4 linked regions of the Homo sapiens genome follow. The protein of the gene in region 1 purifies or fractionates together with the protein of each later gene. This does not show direct contact. Each region holds a gene or a part of one and is shown on either strand. Other genes may lie near its edges.

The links.
Region 2: the proteins of GNG2 (region 1) and KCTD5 purify together in Homo sapiens (affinity purification with western blotting; 2 studies listed by BioGRID and IntAct, with this or other methods). This does not show direct contact.
Region 3: the proteins of GNG2 (region 1) and SMO fractionate together in Homo sapiens (co-fractionation; one study listed by IntAct). This does not show direct contact.
Region 4: the proteins of GNG2 (region 1) and TBC1D24 purify together in Homo sapiens (affinity purification with mass spectrometry; one large-scale study listed by BioGRID and IntAct). This does not show direct contact.

The regions. Positions count from the first base shown.
Region 1 is NC_000014.9:51,950,201-51,955,516, forward strand, and holds part of GNG2 (guanine nucleotide-binding protein G(I)/G(S)/G(O) subunit gamma-2 precursor), read left to right. Parts: intron 1-449; coding exon of another isoform or gene 450-478; coding exon 479-565; intron 566-5,316. UniProt on the Homo sapiens protein: Guanine nucleotide-binding proteins (G proteins) are involved as a modulator or transducer in various transmembrane signaling systems.
Region 2 is NC_000016.10:2,702,115-2,706,522, reverse strand, and holds part of KCTD5 (BTB/POZ domain-containing protein KCTD5), read right to left. Parts: intron 4,171-4,408; coding exon 4,045-4,170; intron 1-4,044. UniProt on the Homo sapiens protein: Its interaction with CUL3 suggests that it may act as a substrate adapter in some E3 ligase complex. Does not affect the function of Kv channel Kv2.1/KCNB1, Kv1.2/KCNA2, Kv4.2/KCND2 and Kv3.4/KCNC4.
Region 3 is NC_000007.14:129,190,725-129,195,132, reverse strand, and holds part of SMO (protein smoothened precursor), read right to left. Parts: intron 1-4,408. UniProt on the Homo sapiens protein: G protein-coupled receptor which associates with the patched protein (PTCH) to transduce hedgehog protein signaling. Binding of sonic hedgehog (SHH) to its receptor patched prevents inhibition of smoothened (SMO) by patched.
Region 4 is NC_000016.10:2,491,219-2,495,626, reverse strand, and holds part of TBC1D24 (TBC1 domain family member 24), read right to left. Parts: intron 1-4,408. UniProt on the Homo sapiens protein: May act as a GTPase-activating protein for Rab family protein(s). Involved in neuronal projections development, probably through a negative modulation of ARF6 function. Involved in the regulation of synaptic vesicle trafficking.

The sequences.
Region 1 (5,316 bases):
GAATTATGAGTAAAGTAGATCGTTGTGACTCAAACTTTAATTTCAAATAGAGTGGGGAGGAATGGCTATTTACAGCAATGCTGGATTAAGTGACACTGAAAAGCCAAGCCTCCCACTATAGTGTCTCTGTAGTATAATACGCTGAGGTGGTCACAGTTAACCAGAAGGATGGGGTTTGAGCCCACTGGGAGAACATTTGGTAATATTCTTTGTGTGTGTGTTTTTTTTCTCTCTAAAGAAGGGATGGGGAAGTAGGGAGAATTGGAAAATCAAACCTCATCCTCTGCTCTGCCTGCCAGTCAGAGGTAATACCGACCAAGGATGGAGAGGGCTGGAGAAGCCAGGCCTGGCTACAGCCACTGCTTTGAGATCCCCTAGTTACGATGAACTTGCACATTTGCTGGCTCATGAATTCTCTGGTACAATCTTCTTTTTGTTTTCTTTTCTAGTGTTTCTGAAAGATCTATCCAGCACTCCGATGGCCAGCAACAACACCGCCAGCATAGCACAAGCCAGGAAGCTGGTAGAGCAGCTTAAGATGGAAGCCAATATCGACAGGATAAAGGTGAGGATGGTCTAACCCCACACTTCATCTAGCGTGAGTCTAAGGCGCATGTCATGTGACCACTCTTTCCTAGAGAGGGATAAAACCAGTAATGACAGGAGAGCATCTTAAAGATTAGGCAGAAGTTCATTTCTAACGTGTCTTTCCCTTCTCCAGCATAAAATAATAGAATGAATTAGATCCTCTTTCCCATGTAGAATTAAAACCTAACAACACAACACAAAAAAAAAAGCAAAACAGGCTCATGGTTAAATTCCAGTGAGAGAAATTAGAGAACACATAAAATATATCAGCGCACTAGTTCCCCTCCCTGTCCTCATGGAAACGTTTTTCTTATTTGGTTTTTAATTTTTTCTGTCCTGGTTCAGGTTCTAAGGCTAAATGTCCGTATTTTGGGTCTAACACTTCTAGTTATCCTTGCACGTTATAAGTTTTTTCTTCTTTATACTTTATTGAATTTTTTTCCTGCAAACACAAAAGTCACACCTTGCCTCCCTAAGAAGTCAAACAACAAAGAGGTTTAATGAAAGTTCATAGTCTATGTGTTTCTTTTTTTCCTCTCCCTCCCCAGACCTAACCTGACAGCTTTGCTGTAAGCTGGGGCTAATTCATCTGGAACCAAGACTTTAAATTCAAACCCTTCGTTGGTAGTTTTCAGATGAAAACCTTGGCCAATATGCTGTCGTTATTAATAGATAGCTATGGCACGGTGGCAAAGTAAATTTCTGTTAACCATCAAAACTTTACTGCCCCAGAAGTAAAATGCCTTACCCAAGAATTCTATGAAATGCAGCTCAGACACATATCTCATTGTACTAAGCTAAAACTACAACCTTCTTCCAAATGCCCTTTTAAAACTAGAATATTTTTCCTATTTTCTCCATACCTAATTCAGCACCTGGGCAATCCAGCTGTCCTTTGGAGTCTGACAGGGTCAATAAAATTTGGCTCATGGGCCAAAGCCAGCCCACTGCCTATGTTTATAAAGAAAGTTTTATTAGAACACACTCATTTACATATTGTCTATGGCTGCTTTCACTCTAAAACAGCAGAGTAGGGTGGTTGTAACAGAGACCATATGGCCCACAAAGCTAAAATATTTATTCTCTGGTGTTTCACAGGAAGTTCACTGACCCCTGGTCTACAGCGATGGTTCTCAGCTCATCTGTGCGTTCCCAACACCCAGAGAGCTCTATAAAAGGACCAATTACCGAACCACACCCAAACCAATTAAATTAGAATCTCCTGGGGTATGATTCAGGCATCAGTATTTTTTAAAAAGAATTTTTCAGTTCATTCCGATGTATAGCCAAGGTTGAGAACCACTGTCCTATGGGAAGGAGTTTACTTCTGCTAAGTCTCATCAGGTATGTGCTAGAGAGTGAAGAGAGAGCTCTTCTTTCTCTACAAGTAAGATGAGCAAATACCCATGGACATTTTCCCATTATCCTAAATCTCCTTTGTAAAATTTGATGCCTAGTAATGGACCACAGGATTTAATCAGCTCCTGCTCTTCTTTCAACAGCCTTAATTCTTCTTCTTTCTTCATGACTGAGATCACTAAAGCGACCTTACCGTGCTCCTTTGCCATCTTCCTCTTCTCCTCTTTTCTTGCTTCTTCTTTTTCACTCTCTTGCTGAAAAAGCACAAAGCAACAGGTGGGCACAATACCTGCTGAGAGAAGTAAGGTGGCCCATGGATTGTCAAATCAGAAAGGGTCATTCAGTTCTTTTTGAGGGAGAGGAGGTTCTGCCCATGGGCCTTCTGGAAAATACCACTTTGACTTTTGAGGTGGTCCAACTATGATAAAAGTCTGTGAAGCTTTACTGTGGTTGATGTTTTCTGTTAATATTCAGCATCCCCAGTTACTGTTCCTGAAGGAGGATATGATGTGCTCATGGGTGATGAAAACTGACAGCAGAAGAAAGATAATAGAAATAGAGCTTTTCAGAAATAGTTTAGACTTTTATCATCCCTCACCTGAATTACTGACTGCAAGGGGCTCCTATTTGCTGTCTGCAATTCCATCTCAATACATCTCCATCCCGCCATCAATTACCTTCCATATTCCTTCCAAATATAATGTTCTAAAAGAAAATCTAATTACATTCCTCTTTATTGAAAATCAGCTCATGATTCCCCATCACCAGTAAAATAAAATTCAGGCCCTTTAGCAGTGTATACAAAGTTCCTGTGACCCCTGTCATCTCTTCAGCTTCATTCCTGCTCTCTTTTCTGCATGCCATATAGAACAACTTTTAATTCTTTTGATGGGAATTTCAAATGCCTAGAACATCCAGTCTCCTTTGCCCCTCTACCTTGCTGCTTTACTTACCTTACTTTACTTAACACTTGACTGCATTGACTCATTAAAGATTCAGATCAAATTATTAGGTCCTTTAAAAAGTTTTCCTAGACCCGCATCATAAGGTTGGATTTTTGCTGTTTGTTCAGTTGTTCATTCATTTACTTATATAATAAATACTTTACTGAGAGCTTTCTAAATTGCAAGGGCTTGTTAGGTTCTAAAGAGATGGAGATAGACAAAAACATGATTCTTGCTCTCAAAAATCCCTGACCTAGTTGAAGACTACAAAAAAATTGAACAAGGCCTATTATTGACGCAAACAAGATATCCAAGAAGCATAGTTACCAAATGTGATCAGAAAGAAGCCAATACCACACTCTGATTGCCCTTTGAAGAGACACAAATAAATCAATACTAAAAAAGAAGCAAAGCATGAACCTGATAAACTGGGTGTGAGTAGTTGCCTTCCTAGGTGATCTTCACATTCAAATCTCTGAATCCCACTTGATGTCATTGGACCTTACATTGTTAGAAATACAGCAGCATCCTGTATTTCAGCATTTGTTCTGTACCTCAGAGCCAGGCAGGCTTGCTGTGGTGAAGTGACAGATTATTTTTAGTTGAGCAGTTGGATAAAGTGTTGACTGTGTTGACACGGTTGTCAGCTAGCTGGTTTAGGGCTTGGTTATCTGCCTTTAGAAGTCTTTTCAAGGCTTTTGAGCATTCAGGCTTCCCCACCTACTTTCCATACATGATCCTTCAGCAGGAAGGGGCTTCTCTCTGAAGATCCCAGGCTTGTGATTTTCCAGTGAGAGTAGTGACCTCTTCAAGCTATAAAGGATAGAAATGGCTTTATATACGTCTGGCAGAACCTACTGCAACTGAGGTGGCAAAGAATAGGACTCTTAAGAGGAGGATTTGGGGACACAGCTGGAATTGAAGTTGTTGAGGGTCCCTTAAGCAGGCGGTGGCCTTATCCCTCATGTGACCCCCAGAATAAATTATGCTGCATAGAGTAGCCCTACTCTATGAATAACATAGTTACATGAATAGCATGTTTGTTTTTTAAGCCTTCTTGTTTTCTATCCCTTTACATCACAGACCCTGGGAGATTTGGGCTAAGTGAACCAATTATCTGTTCATAAGCCTCGGGCATATATAAATTATACTCTCAGCCTCTTTGTATTTCTTTGTTAGGATTTCATTCAAGGACAGAGGGTAAAGAGAAATAAAAGGAAATTGGGAAGAGAGTTAGGGGAAGGGGGAGAGAGGGGCTGTGGACTGTGACACCTGGATGAATGAAACAGCAATAGACTCACACTAACACTGACCAAAGACAAAATGAAAGAAACCTTGTCCTTAGAGCACAAGAGGAGGGAACATGCACAAAAGTAAAGGACAGCAGGGCTTCAGTAAATCTGTTTATTCATCATTGTATTAGGACTCTTTGAGTTTCTAATAATAGGAATCTCAACCAAGCTAGCTGAAGCAGAAAGAGGTACTGATTATAAAAGATACAGGATGTCTCAATCCAAGAGCAGAAATGTGGCTAGATAGGCAGTGGAAGTGAGAACTGGAAGGCCATTGAGAACTGCGAGTGCTCCGTCACCTGTCTCTGCTCCTCTCTCTGTGTCTGCCTCTTCCTTTTCCTGGGAAGAAGGGATTTTTAGCTGCCAGGTCCATATAGCAGGCACAAGATGGCTGCCCATGGTTCCCAGGATCACAACTCATAGTTCCAGCTCCATGAAAAAAGAGATGGCTTGATTCAATCCTTTTCAGTCTCCATAGCACGTAGTCCTAGAGTGCCATCTCTGTTCCAGCAAGAATGAGCCCTCTCCAGCTTCAATCAACTGACATTCAAATTGAACTCCATTATACAGACATAGCCCCTAGGAATTAACCTGCCCATGTAGAGGAATGGGAATGGGAATGGGAATCATTGTAAGCTGGAAAGATGCTCTTTGGCAGGAGATGCTATTAATATTATGAAAAATAATGTAAATTTAAGAGTAAAAGATATAAGATGCAAGGCAAGAGCATGGGTAAAATGATTGCTTCTTAACTAATTGGCTGCTCCATAAATTGACCCCACAGAAAAATGTCTCATTTCTCCCATATACTCCCAACAGACCTTTCCAAGTGATTCCTTTTATCGTTCTAAAAGTGTGCTATGCAAAGTGTCACCTCTCTGGTTATTCTGGGTTTCTGACTGAGAATACCCTTCCCTCTTATTTCTTTGCCTCTCCCAATCTTATTCCTCCTTTAGGGGTCAGCTCAAGTTCCTACTTGTTCATGAATCTCTTTTTCTATTCTGACCATATTTACTAATCAATTTACTAATTAGTTTCATCTTCATCAAATAAATTTTTCCACCTAGACTACATAGTCCTTTTCAAAGACCATGTTGTCTACTTGTTTGCATCTTTCATGGTACTGGGGTACA
Region 2 (4,408 bases), on another chromosome or scaffold:
ACTCCCAAAATGAGCCATGGCAGCTCCAGAGACCAGGTGGAGGGGAAATCACCCCACGCTCCCGAGCAGAGAGCTTCGGAGCCAGCCAGCCTCACTGTGCGTGGCCCACAACAGCTGTCTCCATGTGTCACGTGAGGGCTGCCCAACACCAGGTAGGGCAGCAACGCCCACGCCCTCGCCGGGCACAGCCTCCCAGAGGTCACTGCCATGCCGCACTGACCGGAGAGAGGGCAGTGGTGAGAGGTGCATGCCACCCCAGGCTTGTTCCGAAGGCTCCTGGAGGCCACGTCCCCTGAGCTGCTCAGCCTGACTCCAATACTCCACCCCCCAACAGCTCTGCCGTTCCCAGGCGGGTGCCCCCCAGGCTCAGTGCCCTGGACCACTTCTAGCTCGAGGCTCCCACTCACTCTCCAGTGCCTCGGAGGAGCCCATCCCCCTGTGCGAGGGGCAGCACGTCCCTCCCTGGGCCAGGGTGATTCCCAAGTTTACTGGGATGTCTGGAGTTGACTTGGGGAGACAGTGCAGCCCCCAAGCCCCCACCAGCCCTGTGTAAAACTAAGTAGCGCAGCGGACAGGCCAGGAGCAGTGTGGCATCTGAGCATCCGGGAGCCCCAACAGCTCCCTCCTGATGAGGGCAGGAGACACCCTGGAGACCTGCAGCCAAAGTGCTGTCCTTCGCCCTCCCAAGGCCGGGAGCAGCACGGGCTACTCTAGACAGAGCCTGGGGTGAGACCCATCTTTTCTGGACACACTGTCTCCCTAGGCCATCTTCCACAGGAAGGTCCAACTGCAGACACCAACCAGGGGGCCCTTGAGGCTGTACCCCATGGCCAGACACCCCCACAGGCAGGCAGGCCCGGGTGGCTGAGGGGCTTGCAGGACACGGCTGGCCTGGGAGGCTTAAGCGCATCAGGGATGCCGCAGGATTTGGCAGCTGAGATAGGGGTCTGCTGTCTGCCGCACTGGTCCTGACCCCTTGGCCCTGAGCCTGTGGCCTAAGCCAGACAGGAAGGTCACCCACTAGGGCTGGCGGCACGAGTGGCACTCCCTGCCCAGCCCCCAGGAGGGGCTCTTGGGTTCACGACCACTGATGTCCACAGCCTGGCCTGGCACGGGCACCCTCCAGTCATCCCAACAAACGCCCCAACACTGCCCCTGGGCATCTGCCTCACAGCAACAGCCCCACCACCAAGACAGTGCTACTGAGGATCTACAGCTGGCATGGAGTGCGGACGGCTCTCGTCAACTACAGGCAGGGACAGACACACAGGGAGGGTCTGTGGCAAGGGTCAGCTGGGGCCATGGGGTCAAGGAGGCCACGGAGCTCACCATGACATTCACACTTAATCTGAGCCACTCCCTGGGTGCCCCTGGTCCTCGTCGTCACTCTGGCGGCGTGCAGCGCGCAGTGGGGGAGAAGACAGGCTGTCAGGACAGTGCGGGTGGGCGGGTGCCCCGGGCCCAAACCCCCACGCCCGGTGACCTTCCAGTGAGGCCACGCCACGAGGGGACACACAGGCTCAGGGGCTCTGCCACATCTCAGAGGTGGAAACCTCCACGTGTGAGGCGGCTGCATCTTGCGATCCGGGGCTGGTCCTGTCCCACCATGTGCTGAGGGGCTGAACCCTGTCCAGAGGCGCCTGGCCTCTGGCCCCACTCCTGGCAGGCGGCGCTAGCCCACAGATCTCGGCCTGATAGGAGGGCCTCTGCTGCGTGGGCTCTGTGGACCCCACTGCATTGGCCCCACTGCTGCAGGAGGGAGGGTGGGGCCCTGGGTCACAGGAGGGATCAGCCACGGGGGCAGGCGGTGGATGCACCCATCGAGCATGGCTACGCAATGGAGCCCCAACACCACCAAGGAACCCCCTCCTCAGCCGCCCAGGCACTGGGAGACCCCGGCCTCTGCCCAGGTGCCCGCCCTTGCTGATCTGAGCCTGTCTCTCTCTGTTCCTTGGGAATAAATGGCGGCCTTGAGTCTAAGCGCTCTCAGTGAGCTCTGCGAGTCCTTCTAGCAAGTTCTTGAGGGACTGGCGTGGGAAGCAGGTGTGCTCATGTGTGGACCGCCTTCACTTGCTACAGGTGCAACCCCTCCCGCCCCACCACCCAGGCTCTCCCGCCGCCGCTGACTGAAGTGGGGGACAGCTGCCCAGCAGGGCCAGGCCACACATGCTGCAGGGACACCAGCGACGAGGGCCCACAGCCCATGCGGCCCTGCGCAGCCCAGCCAGGGGTGCCCCCATCACGGTCCTCCAGCTCTGGCCCCCGCAATCCCCCACGGCCTCCTGAGGCTCTGGCCTGAGCTCTGCCTCCTGGGGCACTGCTGACACCACCCCCATCAAGAAGCCGCCATAGCTGCCCCACTTCAGAGCAGGTATTTTTGGAAAATGAAATAGGGCCACATTCTCAACCACAAAGGGATTTGGGGTCATGCCTGGAGCTTCCTCACAGTACAGAGCGTGTCCTTTCTGCAGCTGCCAAGCCACCTGAGGGATAGGAGCCCAGGGGAGCTTGGTTATAAAAACTCAGCTCAGAAATAAAAAACTTCTAAAAATAAAACCATTTAGAAAAGAGCCCTACGATTGCTCCAAGAGGAAGAGAAGTGCCTCCTTGTGACTGAGCTGGGGCTCTCAGGGAGCCAGGGGTCGCCTCCTAGATCCGAGACTCAAATGGAAGAGCATCTCCGAGCCTGGCGGTGGAACCCCAGCTTCCACCCCGGCTGTCCCACACCAGGGCCTGCCCCAGCCTACACTGCCTCGGCCTCGAGGAACGGCAGTGGAGCAGGACTGGCCTCTGCCCACAGCAAGAGCACAACGGGTGGCCAGCGAGGGAGGCTCTGGGCCAGGACAGTCGCCTGAGGTGGAAAGGCTGCCGTGAGCTGGCCGCAGGCCTCCGAGAGACATGCTTGGCGGCCCCACCCCTCTGTTCCCAAGGGCATACCTCCAAAGGCCTACTCGGAGAGGCTCACGGGGACAGTCCTGGGCTGCTGGTGGCCGGCCAGAGGCCCCCAGCCAAGAGTCTGCGGTTGCCCAGGTGTCCCTGGTTTAATGCCACCAGTTAAAAGCCTTCCGGTTCTGGCCTCTCATGGCACCCACTCAACACCCTTTGCCAATGCCCCGAGCCTTCGCCCCAGGCTGGCTCCCCACAGAGCCCGCCCCACCACCCAGGCTCTCCCAGACCCACGCAGACCCCAGCCAAGAGCTCTCCAGCCACCACCTGGCTCTGAGGTCCGGGAGTCCTGCCAGGTGCAGCTGGCCCAGGCCAAGGTCAGATTCTGCTTGGATGGACGCATTTGTCCATCTTGGAGCCTCAACCTTAAGAACGTGCTTAGAGGAAATGCCACCAGAATGGGTCACCTGTGGGCAGGGCCACAGGGCCAACCTGAAAGCAAACGAGGCAGGGGTCCCTGCATTTCACCCCAGCTGCCTGCCCCGCAGAAAACAGAAGGGCCTGAGCCCCCGCAGAGTCTGCGCCGGTGCTGCCAGGCTGGGTGCCGCAAAGGGCCTACTCTGTGCAGCCTGAGAATCCCAGGGCCTGCAGGACACCCTCCTCTCGACAAAGATGAGGCCCACGTAGTGGCTGAGCCAGGGTACCCACCCCTGCACTCAGGGATGGCCCAGACCCCCACCACGACAACTGGACCCCCATGTCCCTGCACTCAGGGATGGCCCAGACCCCTATGACAGCCAGGCCTCAGCATCCCAAGTCCTCACTCACACAGCAGAGGCTGGGCCCGGGGAACAGAGGACCCTGGGTCCCCTGAGACACAGCCCTCAGTGGCATTCCTAAGAGCATGGCCCCTGCAGCAGGCCTGGGGCCCCTTCCAGGAGCAGCTCTGCATGCAGGCTGGGAGGCCGCAGGGGCTTACTGGGAGCCTGTGTCGAGAGAACCTGTCCCACGGGAGACCGTGTGTCCAAGAAGTCAGCAAGGCCACCAGGGGCGGACACCGGGAGCTTGATGAGAATGGCAGAAAAGGAGGAAGGTCTGAGAGGGCAAGAGCCTTCCCCACCCAAGACTGCCCCAGGCCAGGGCCGGCCCAGCACTCACCTTGGCCTTCTCGCTGGGCTCGCTGGCCGTACCGTACGGGGTGTTGTGCAGCTCCTTGGACACCACACAGAGGAACTCGGCTTGGTCTTCGTTCCCATAGTTGTAAGAGGAGCCGATGCTGACCAACTGCAAGGAGACATAGCCTGAGACGCAGCCCAGTGAAGCCTGAGAGACCCAGCCAGGCTGACATGACCAGCCTCAGGACGCGCCTGCCACCGCGAAAGCCACAGCAAAGACTGCCGACGCTTCAGGAAATGGATGGAAAACAAATCCCCGGAACACCTGCACGAGCACACGGGGCGGCACCCCACGCCGTGGCATGGCATGGGGCGAGCTCTTCCTCTGTGAGGACCCTGAGCTTTCC
Region 3 (4,408 bases), on another chromosome or scaffold:
TGGGCAAAAACTTGAGATGACAATAAAATGGGTAAACAACTGGGGGTATACTCATATAATGGAATATTATTCAGCAATGAAGAAATAAGCTGCAGTATGAGGCGGGTGGCTCACCTGAAGTCAGGAGTTTGAGGCCAGCCTGACCAACATGGCAAAACCCTGTCTCTACTAAAAAATACAAAAATTAGCCAGGCCTGGTGGCGTGCACCTATGGTCCCAGCTACCTGGGAGGCGGAGGCAGGAGAATCGTTTGAACCCAGGAGGTGGAGGTGTAGTGAGCCGAGATCGCGCCACTGCACTCTAGCCTAGGTGACAGAGTGAGACTGTCTCAAAAAAACAAAAACAAACAAATAAACAAGCAAAAAAGAAATAAGCTGCAATAACATGGATGAATCTTACATAATGATATAAAGTAAAAGAAGCAAGAAATAATATGCACAGCATATTATTTTGTACAAATTCCATTTGAACAGAGTTCAAAAACATGCAAAGCTGAAATATACTGCTTATGGATTCCAAAACTAGGAGGTAAAACCATAGAGAAAAAAAGGATGTGATTACTGAAAACCTCTTGAGCAAGGGGAGGGGGATGTGACTAGACAAGACACAGAGGGAGCTTCAGGGGTCTGACTGTGGTCTAGTTATTGACCCAGATGTCACTTTATAATTATTTGTTATTCAGTACCTTTGTGTTTTATGCAGTTTTCTGCATACAGTTATATTTCACAATTAAAAAGTTAAAGATCTGAAGCAAAATTGAAGACTTGAGCTGGCACAGAACACATGCCTGTAGTGCCAGCTATTCCAGGCACCATAAGCACCATGCGCACAATGAGTGAGCCTCTGAATAGCCACTGCACTCCAGCCTGGGCAACACAGCAAGACCCCATTTCTCAAATAATTAATTAAAGATAATTTTTTTTTAAAAAAGACTTAGGTCCATGTATGTTTTTCTGTATTTTACATTTTCACTATACATATATGTGTGTGTGTGTATACATACACACATATCTATATGTATGTATGTATTTTTGAGACAGGGTCTTGCTCTGTTGCCCAGTCTGGAGGGCAGTGGTGTGAGGATGGCTCACTGCAGCCTCAACCTCTTGGGTTCAAGCGATCCTTTTGCCTCAGCCTCCAGTGTAGCTGGGACCACAGGTGTGTGCCAACATGCCCGGCTAATTTTTTTTTTTAGAGATGGGGTCTCACTTTGTTGCCCAGGCTGGTCTCGAACTCCTGGCTTCAAGAAATCCTCCTGCCTCAACCTCCCAAAGTGCTAAGATTACAGGTGTGAGCCACTGCACCCAGCCTATACATATATATATATATATATATATATATATATATTTTTTTTTTTTTTTTTTTTTTTTTTTTGAGATGGAGTCTCGGTCTGTCGCCCAGGCTGGAGTGCAGTGGCGTGATCTCGGCTTACTGCAAGCTCTGCCTCCCGGGTTCCCGCCATTCTCCTGCCTCAGCCTCCCAAGCAGCTGGGACTACAGGCACCCGCCACCATGCCCAACTAATTTTTTTGTATTTTTAGTAGAGACGGGGTTTCACCCTGTTTGCCGGGATGGTCTCGATCTCCTGACCTCGTGATCCGCCCACCTCGGCCTCCCAAAGTGCTGGGATTGCAGGCGTGAGCCACCGCGCCCGGCCATATATATCTTTTTAACTGACTCTGATTACCAGCCAAGTTTGGAAATAGCTCTAAGGAAATTCTTCCTGATCCGTCCCTGAAAATAACCCACCATCACCAAAAACATTCCTCCTCTCAGCCCTCAATTCAATGTGTGAGAGGCAAACAAGAAATTCCTCCCAGCCTTTGTCTCTCTCCTACTTACCTGCAAGTGGGCAAGGTGACAGGGCCACACACTTATGTACCACACAGAGCACAGCAGTGGTTAAGGAGGCTACGTGCTGGCTCTCAGGGACCTATCGCCACTGCCAGCTGCAGGCCTCTCTGCTTTTTTGCCCCACTTACTAAACCAGGTTTGGCCTAAGGTGGACCACGGCCTGGACATTATGTTTGTCTGGTCAGCTTGGAATGCCCGGGAGGAGGCATTTCCAGCTGTAAAGGGGAGAGATGCTAAGTGACTGAAGAAGCCTGAGGCCAGAGAGATGAAAGACAGAGGAAAGACCTGAGGTCTATACAGACCTAGAAATTGGACCAACCTGAGCTATAAACTTCCTCAGTCAATGGCATCCTTCCAAAGCCTCAGTAGTCAGGGCCAAGGAAGCACACAGTGGCCACCTCTCTCCAGCAATTCCTATTTCCAGATCTGCTGAGAATCTCCACATAGATGTCCAATGAGCATCTCTAATTCACACGGCCAAAATCAAAGCCACACCTCCTGCCTAAACTTCTTCTTCCTCTAGCATTCTCTATCTTAGTGAAAGGGAATGGCACCACCTTCCATCCAAGCCTGAAACCCGAGGCCTCCTGCTCACTGAGGCTCCACATCTAACTCATCAGTGCCCTATGAGCACTACCTCTGAAAGTTAGTGGGATCTGCCCACTCCCTCTGTCCTGCTACCCAGTCCCAACCGCCATCGTCTCTTACTTGGGCTACTTCAACATCCCCTGGTCAAGAAGCCAGGCTCCAGGCTTTCCCTGCTCCTATGGCTTCTTCACACCATACCCAAAGAGATCCAGCTAAAATGCAAAGACAATTACATCTCTCCCTTGCTTAAAATCTTTCAATGGCTCCTTATCATCCCCTGGATAACATCCAAACTTAATATGAGGTATAAATCCCTTTATTTTCTAATTCTTTAGGTCTTATCTCTCACAATTCCACCCCTCACACGCTTTGATCCAGTTCTACTGCAACTCTTATACTTTCTTTCAAAGCACCAAGCCCTCCTACCTCTACACCTTTGTACATGCTATTTCCTCTTCCTATCCCTTCAAACCTCAACTCTCCCTCGGCCAGGCAATTCCTGCTTATGTGTCAAGTTATGGGTTAAATGCCAGTTCTTCTGGGATGTTCCTTGGGTCCTTTATGCTTTTTCAGTACCCTAAAATGCCACAGTACCTTTCACAGGTATTTCCAAAGCCTGTTGAATTATCTGTCTTCCTTTTTTTTTTTTAGAGGCAAGGTCTCAGGCTGGTCTTAAACTCCTGGTATTGAGCAATCTTCCCGCCTCGGCCTCCCAAAGTGCTGAGATCACAGGTGTGAGCACCATGTCCAGCCTGTCTTCTTGATGACAGAGGATCATATCTGTATTCTTCATCCTTACATGCGCAGCATGTGACATACAGCAAACATTCAATACATAACTGAATGCATGAATAGAAGCATGGCTGTGTACTCAGTACTCACAGGCTTTGAAAAAAAGTGAAGACCCAGTTCCTACATTCAAGAGTTTACCGATGAAGACAACCTAGATCACCTTCATCCTTCACCCACAAAAACACCCCTAAGAGCCAGGTAACACTGACCCTGTCTAATGCAAAATCAAGATCATTAACTCGGGACATGATAAATCACTTGCCAGAGGCTACCAGCTGACCTGGCTGTGATTCTCACACGAGGCTTGGGTTCACTCTACCTACTCATTACCCAGCTCAAGCCAACACCTGCTTCTGCCCTACTTGCAAGTCCCAAGCAGAAAGAGTGCAACCAGAACACATATGGAAACAGGAATGAGCTGAGGGATGGTGGTTGGTGGCAGAGAAGAACTCATAGTGAACTAATGGAACTAACGGTGCTGGGCTCAGTGCTGGCATCTCTGTAGGACCCTGCCCTGCCAAAAGGCACAGATAGTGAGATTTCAACCTGCACAACCTGCAGATGGTACTAATTGATACATGTTCCAGCTTAAACTACTTCTGTCTGCTCAGCAGCTGCTCTCAAGAGTATGGGCTGGAAAGAGGTTCATACCCTTCCTCCTTGATCTGATGGTAACTACACAGAGGCAACATCAAACATGCATTTAACTTGGGAAAATTAAACCATGGGTCCTTGCACAATCAATAAAGAGAGGGACAGAAAGATTATCCTCTGACAGCATGAGCAACTCAGAACTGGGTGAGATTCTAGTGCTGAGAGATTTGGACTTTCCACACAGCTGGCTCCTAAACTCAAGTCTCATTTTGGGTGGTGCTCAAAGCAATCTTGCTTAATCTCACTTTGGTGTTCTTTTTATTATTATTATTATTATTTCAGTCTTTTGCATGAATGTAACTTTAAAATTACAATTATTTTATCTTCTATGTATACCCATTCTTATATATGAGTATACATGTAACACATGTATGCAAACATCGTAAAAGAAGTGTATATGCAAAACCACATCCACCTTACACTATGGTAATCTGCAGAGTTTTCAAAGCCACTGTTGTTTACACATGATTTCTGTCTAATGTGCTGTGCTGACTTTAGAACCTGATCCCCAAAAAGGATGC
Region 4 (4,408 bases), on another chromosome or scaffold:
TTTGTATTTTTACTAGAGACAGGGTTTCACCATGTTGGTCAGGCTGGTCTCAAACTCCTGACCTTGTGATGTGCCTGCCTTGGCCTCCCAAAGTGTGGGATTACAGACGAGAGCCACCGCCCTGGCCTAATTTTTTATTTTTTTGTAGAGACAGGGTCTCGCTATGCTCTCCAGGCTGGTCTTGAACTCCTGGGCTCAAGCAATCCTCCTGTCTTGGCCTCCCAAAATGTTGGGATTACAGGCATGAGCCACTGTGCCCGGCCTTGTTTTGTTTTGTTTGAGACAAGGTCTTGTGCTGACATCCAGGCTAGAGTGCAATGGCACCATCTCGGCACACTGCAACTTCTGCCTCCTGGGCTCAGGTGATCCTCCCACCTCAGCTATAGCTGAGACTACAGTTAGGCGCCACCACGCCCAGCTAATTTTTTCTCTTTTTAGTAGAGACGAGATTTTGCCATGTTACCCAGACTGGTCTTAAACTCCTGATCTCAAGCAATCCACCCACCACAGCCTCCCAAAGTGCTGGGATTACAAGTGTGAGCCAGTGCTCCTGGCCTGTTTTTTTGTTTATTATTATTATTATTATTTATTTTGTGTGTGTGTGTGTGTGTGTGTGTGTGTGTGATGGGGTCTTGTTCTGTCACCCAGGTTGGCCTTGAACCGCAGGCCTCAAGTGATCTTCCCACCATGCTGGAATTACGAGTGAGAGTCACGTTGCGCAGCCACATTATTTGCCTTAATCTTTGTGTAAGTATTAGAAGGGCTTCCACTTAAGATAAGTGACTTTTGAGAAGCCGTTACAAACTTTGGAGTATACCTTCTTTTCACAGAACTTATGAAGTTACTGGAATACATCACACAGATTCTGAGTAATGAGAGGCTAGAGATAGAGTTCCCAGAAGGGCTTCAAGAGCTTGGCCCTTGGCTGGGCACAGTGGCTCATATCTATAATCTCAGCTACTCAGGAGGCCAAGGTGGGAGGACTAGTTGAGGCCAGGAGTTCAAGACCAGCCTGGGCAACATGGTGAGACCCCATCTCTACCAAAAAAAGAGGCTGACCCTGCTGAAAACACCTTTCCACTCGAGCATGGTCCACTCCAGGCTCCTAAACACCACCCTGCACCCTGGGGGCCTTCTGAAAAGGAACCCCCAGTTGAGAAGATCACTTTGAGCAAAGAGATGCTTCGTTCTAGTTCTCCCTTTTTTTTTTTTTTTGAGACAGAGTCTTGCACTGTCGCACGGGCTGGAGTGCAGTGGCGTAATCTCGGCTCACTGCAACTTCCGCCTCCCGGGCTCAAGTGATTCTCCTGCCTCAGCCTCCTGAGTAGCTGGGACTACAGGCACCCGCCACCACACCCAGCCAGTTTTTGTATTTTTAGTAGAGATGGGGTTTCACCATGTTGGCCAGGCTGGTCTCGAACTCCTGATCTCGTGATCCACCCACCTCGGCCTCCCAAAGTGTTGGGATTACAGGCGTGAGCCACCACGCCCAGCCCGTTCCCAGTTCTCTTTAACCAGCTGTGTGTGCTAAGAAAGTCACAGCCTATGCTATCCCACCCTGTCGGAATTCTGAAGCCGGCTCTTAACTTTCTAAAACCACCAGCTTGAAAGCTATGCTTCAGGCAGGTGCTCCAGGGAGGAATCTCTGGTGAGGAGCAGGCATTTTCCAGAGGGAGAGCTGGGACCTAAATGGAAGGTGCTGCAGCTTTAAAACTGCACATTTCTGGATCCGAATGGGCCAGAAGTCAAGTGGGGGTGGTTGGTGTTTCTCCAAGAACAGCAACCCCTGGGCTCAGGCAAACATAAAAGGAGTGGGTAAGACGTGCCCTGTGGGATTCTGGACAACAGGTGGCTGCCCTGGCCCAAGGATACCGTCCTGCGCACAGAAGTGCAAGGTTTGCTTACGCACATCAGACTAACCTTTCCACCTGGGATGGTAGAAGTTCCCAGTGTGCCCCAGGGGTCTGCTTCAGCAGGTTTTGGTTGAGTGACCAGACCACTCCGGTTTCTCTTGCAGCTAGAACATTCACCTACCTATTATAAGGCAAATACTGCTTTAAAACAGTTCTTGAAAAGTAAAAATCATAGTGTAAAACGTACGTCTGCGAGACACTGTCTTGGGAAAACACCTCGACACGTGTTTTTGTGTGTGTGGTAAAATACACATAGCATAAAATTTACCATGTTAGGCCGGACGCGGTGGCTCACGCCTGTAATCCCAGCACTTTGGGAGGCCGAGGCGGGTGGATCACGAGGTCAGGAGATCGAGACCATCCTGGCTAACACAGTGAAACCCTGTCTCTACTAAAAATACAAAAAAACTAGCCGGGCGTGGTTGCGGGAGCCTGTAGTACCAGCTACTCGGGAGGCTGAGGCAGGAGAATGACGTGAACCTGGGAGGCGGAGATTGCAGTGAGCCGAGATTGTGCCACTGCACTCCAGCCCAGGCGACAGAGCAAGACTCTGTCTCAAACAAACAAACAAACAAACAAAAAATTTACCATTTTAGCCATTTTTTATTTATTTATTTTTTTGAGACAGAGTGCCGCACTGTCGTCCAGGCTGGAGTGCAGTGGCGTAATCTCAGCTCACTGCAACCTCCGCCTCCCTGGGTTCAAGCGATTCCCCTGCCTCAGCCTCCCAAGTAGCTGGGATTACAGGCATGTGCCACCACGCCCGGCTAATTTTGTATTTTTAGTAGAGACAGGGATTGTCCATGTTGGTCAGGCTGGTCTCGAACTCCCGACCTCAGGTGATCCGCCCGCCTCAGCCTCCCAAAGTGCTGAGATTAGAAGCGTGAGCCACCGAAGTTGATTTTAATGTATCCCACTGGAAAAACCTTGCCCACAGCAGGACTAGGCCTCAGAAGAAAAGAAACCCTTAAGACCATTGATTGGTTTGCTTCGTCCTGGGAGGGAAGGCAGTGAGGGCTCCCCCTTTCCCTGGTCCTGAAGGTCAGGCCGACAGGTCCACTCACATGCGCACAGCCACGCCTGGGTCACACTGCACAATCTTACACGTGTCGGTCGGTTATCCACAGCTTACATCCCTCCTTCCCTGCTATGGGCCCACTAGCCTCTGGAGGAACTCCAGGCCCATCCTGTTTGGGTGAAAGAACTGGCTCCTTCTTAAGGCAATAAACATGTTTCTAAACAGAACAGGAGCTGGGCAGAGCAGCACCAGCCTCCACTCGGCTGGCCCCAGATTCAGGTTGAATATTAAACTGGAAACAGTAAAAGCTGTGGGTGCACCTTGCGAAGTTCCCTTAGGGAGATGCAGATCCCAAGTTGTGTTTACTGCCGCGAATGGTCCGGCGACGTGCTGGACTCACAGGGACCCCCGAGCCAAGGATGTGTGCAAAAGACCCGAGGGAGCCCTTGGATTCTTTCTTGTTCCCCAAACCCTCACTCAAAAAGAGCGCACGACATTTCTGGGGCTGTGCACACAAGGCAACAACCCACTTAAGGCATCTATAAAAACCAGGTCCAGGCCAGCAAAGGGGCTCACATCTGTAATCCCAGCACTTTGGGAGGCTCAGGCAGGAGGATCACTTCAGCCCAGGAGTTCAAGACCAGCCTGGGCAACATAATGAGACCTCATCTCTACCAAAAATAAAAAAAAATGGCCAGGCCTGGTGGCATGCACCTGTAATCCCAGCTATTTGGGAGGCTGAACGGGGACGACCTTTGGACGCCAAGCCCAGGAGTTCAAGACTAGCCCACACAACATGGCAAAACCCCATCTCTACAAAAAAATACCAAAATTAGCCAGGCGGGCCAAGCACGGTGGCTCATGCCTGTAATCCCAGCACTTTGGGAGGCCGAGGCAGGTGGATCACAGGGTTAGGAGTTTGAGACCAGCCTGGCCAGCAGGTAAAACCCCGTCTCTACTAAAAATACAAAAAATTAGCTGGGTGTGGTGGCACATGCCTGTAGTCCCAGCTACGTGGGAGGCTGAGGCAGGAGAATCGCTTGAACCCGGCAGGCAGAGGTTGCAGTGAGCCAAGATGGAGCCACTGCACTCTAGACTGGACGACAGAGTGAGACTCCATCTCAAAAAAAAAAAAAAAAATTAGCCAGGCGTGGTGGCGCATACCTGTAGTCCCAGCTACTCAGGAGGTTAAGGTGGGAGGATCACCAGAGCCCAGGAGGTCAAGGCTGCAGTGGGACCTGATTGTACCACTGAACTCCATCCAGCCTGGGTGACAGAGCAAGACCCTGTCTGAAAAAAAAAATAAAATGAAAACAAAAATAAAAAATAAATACATAAATAAAAACGAGGTCCAGATTGGTTTCCTTAGGTTAAAAAAAAAGTCTTTCATTACGCTGGTGATATTTGAATGCAAAAATCACAAAAAGTCAAATAGTACCAAAATTAGGGAGTAAAAATGTAGAGTTCTGTTTAAATT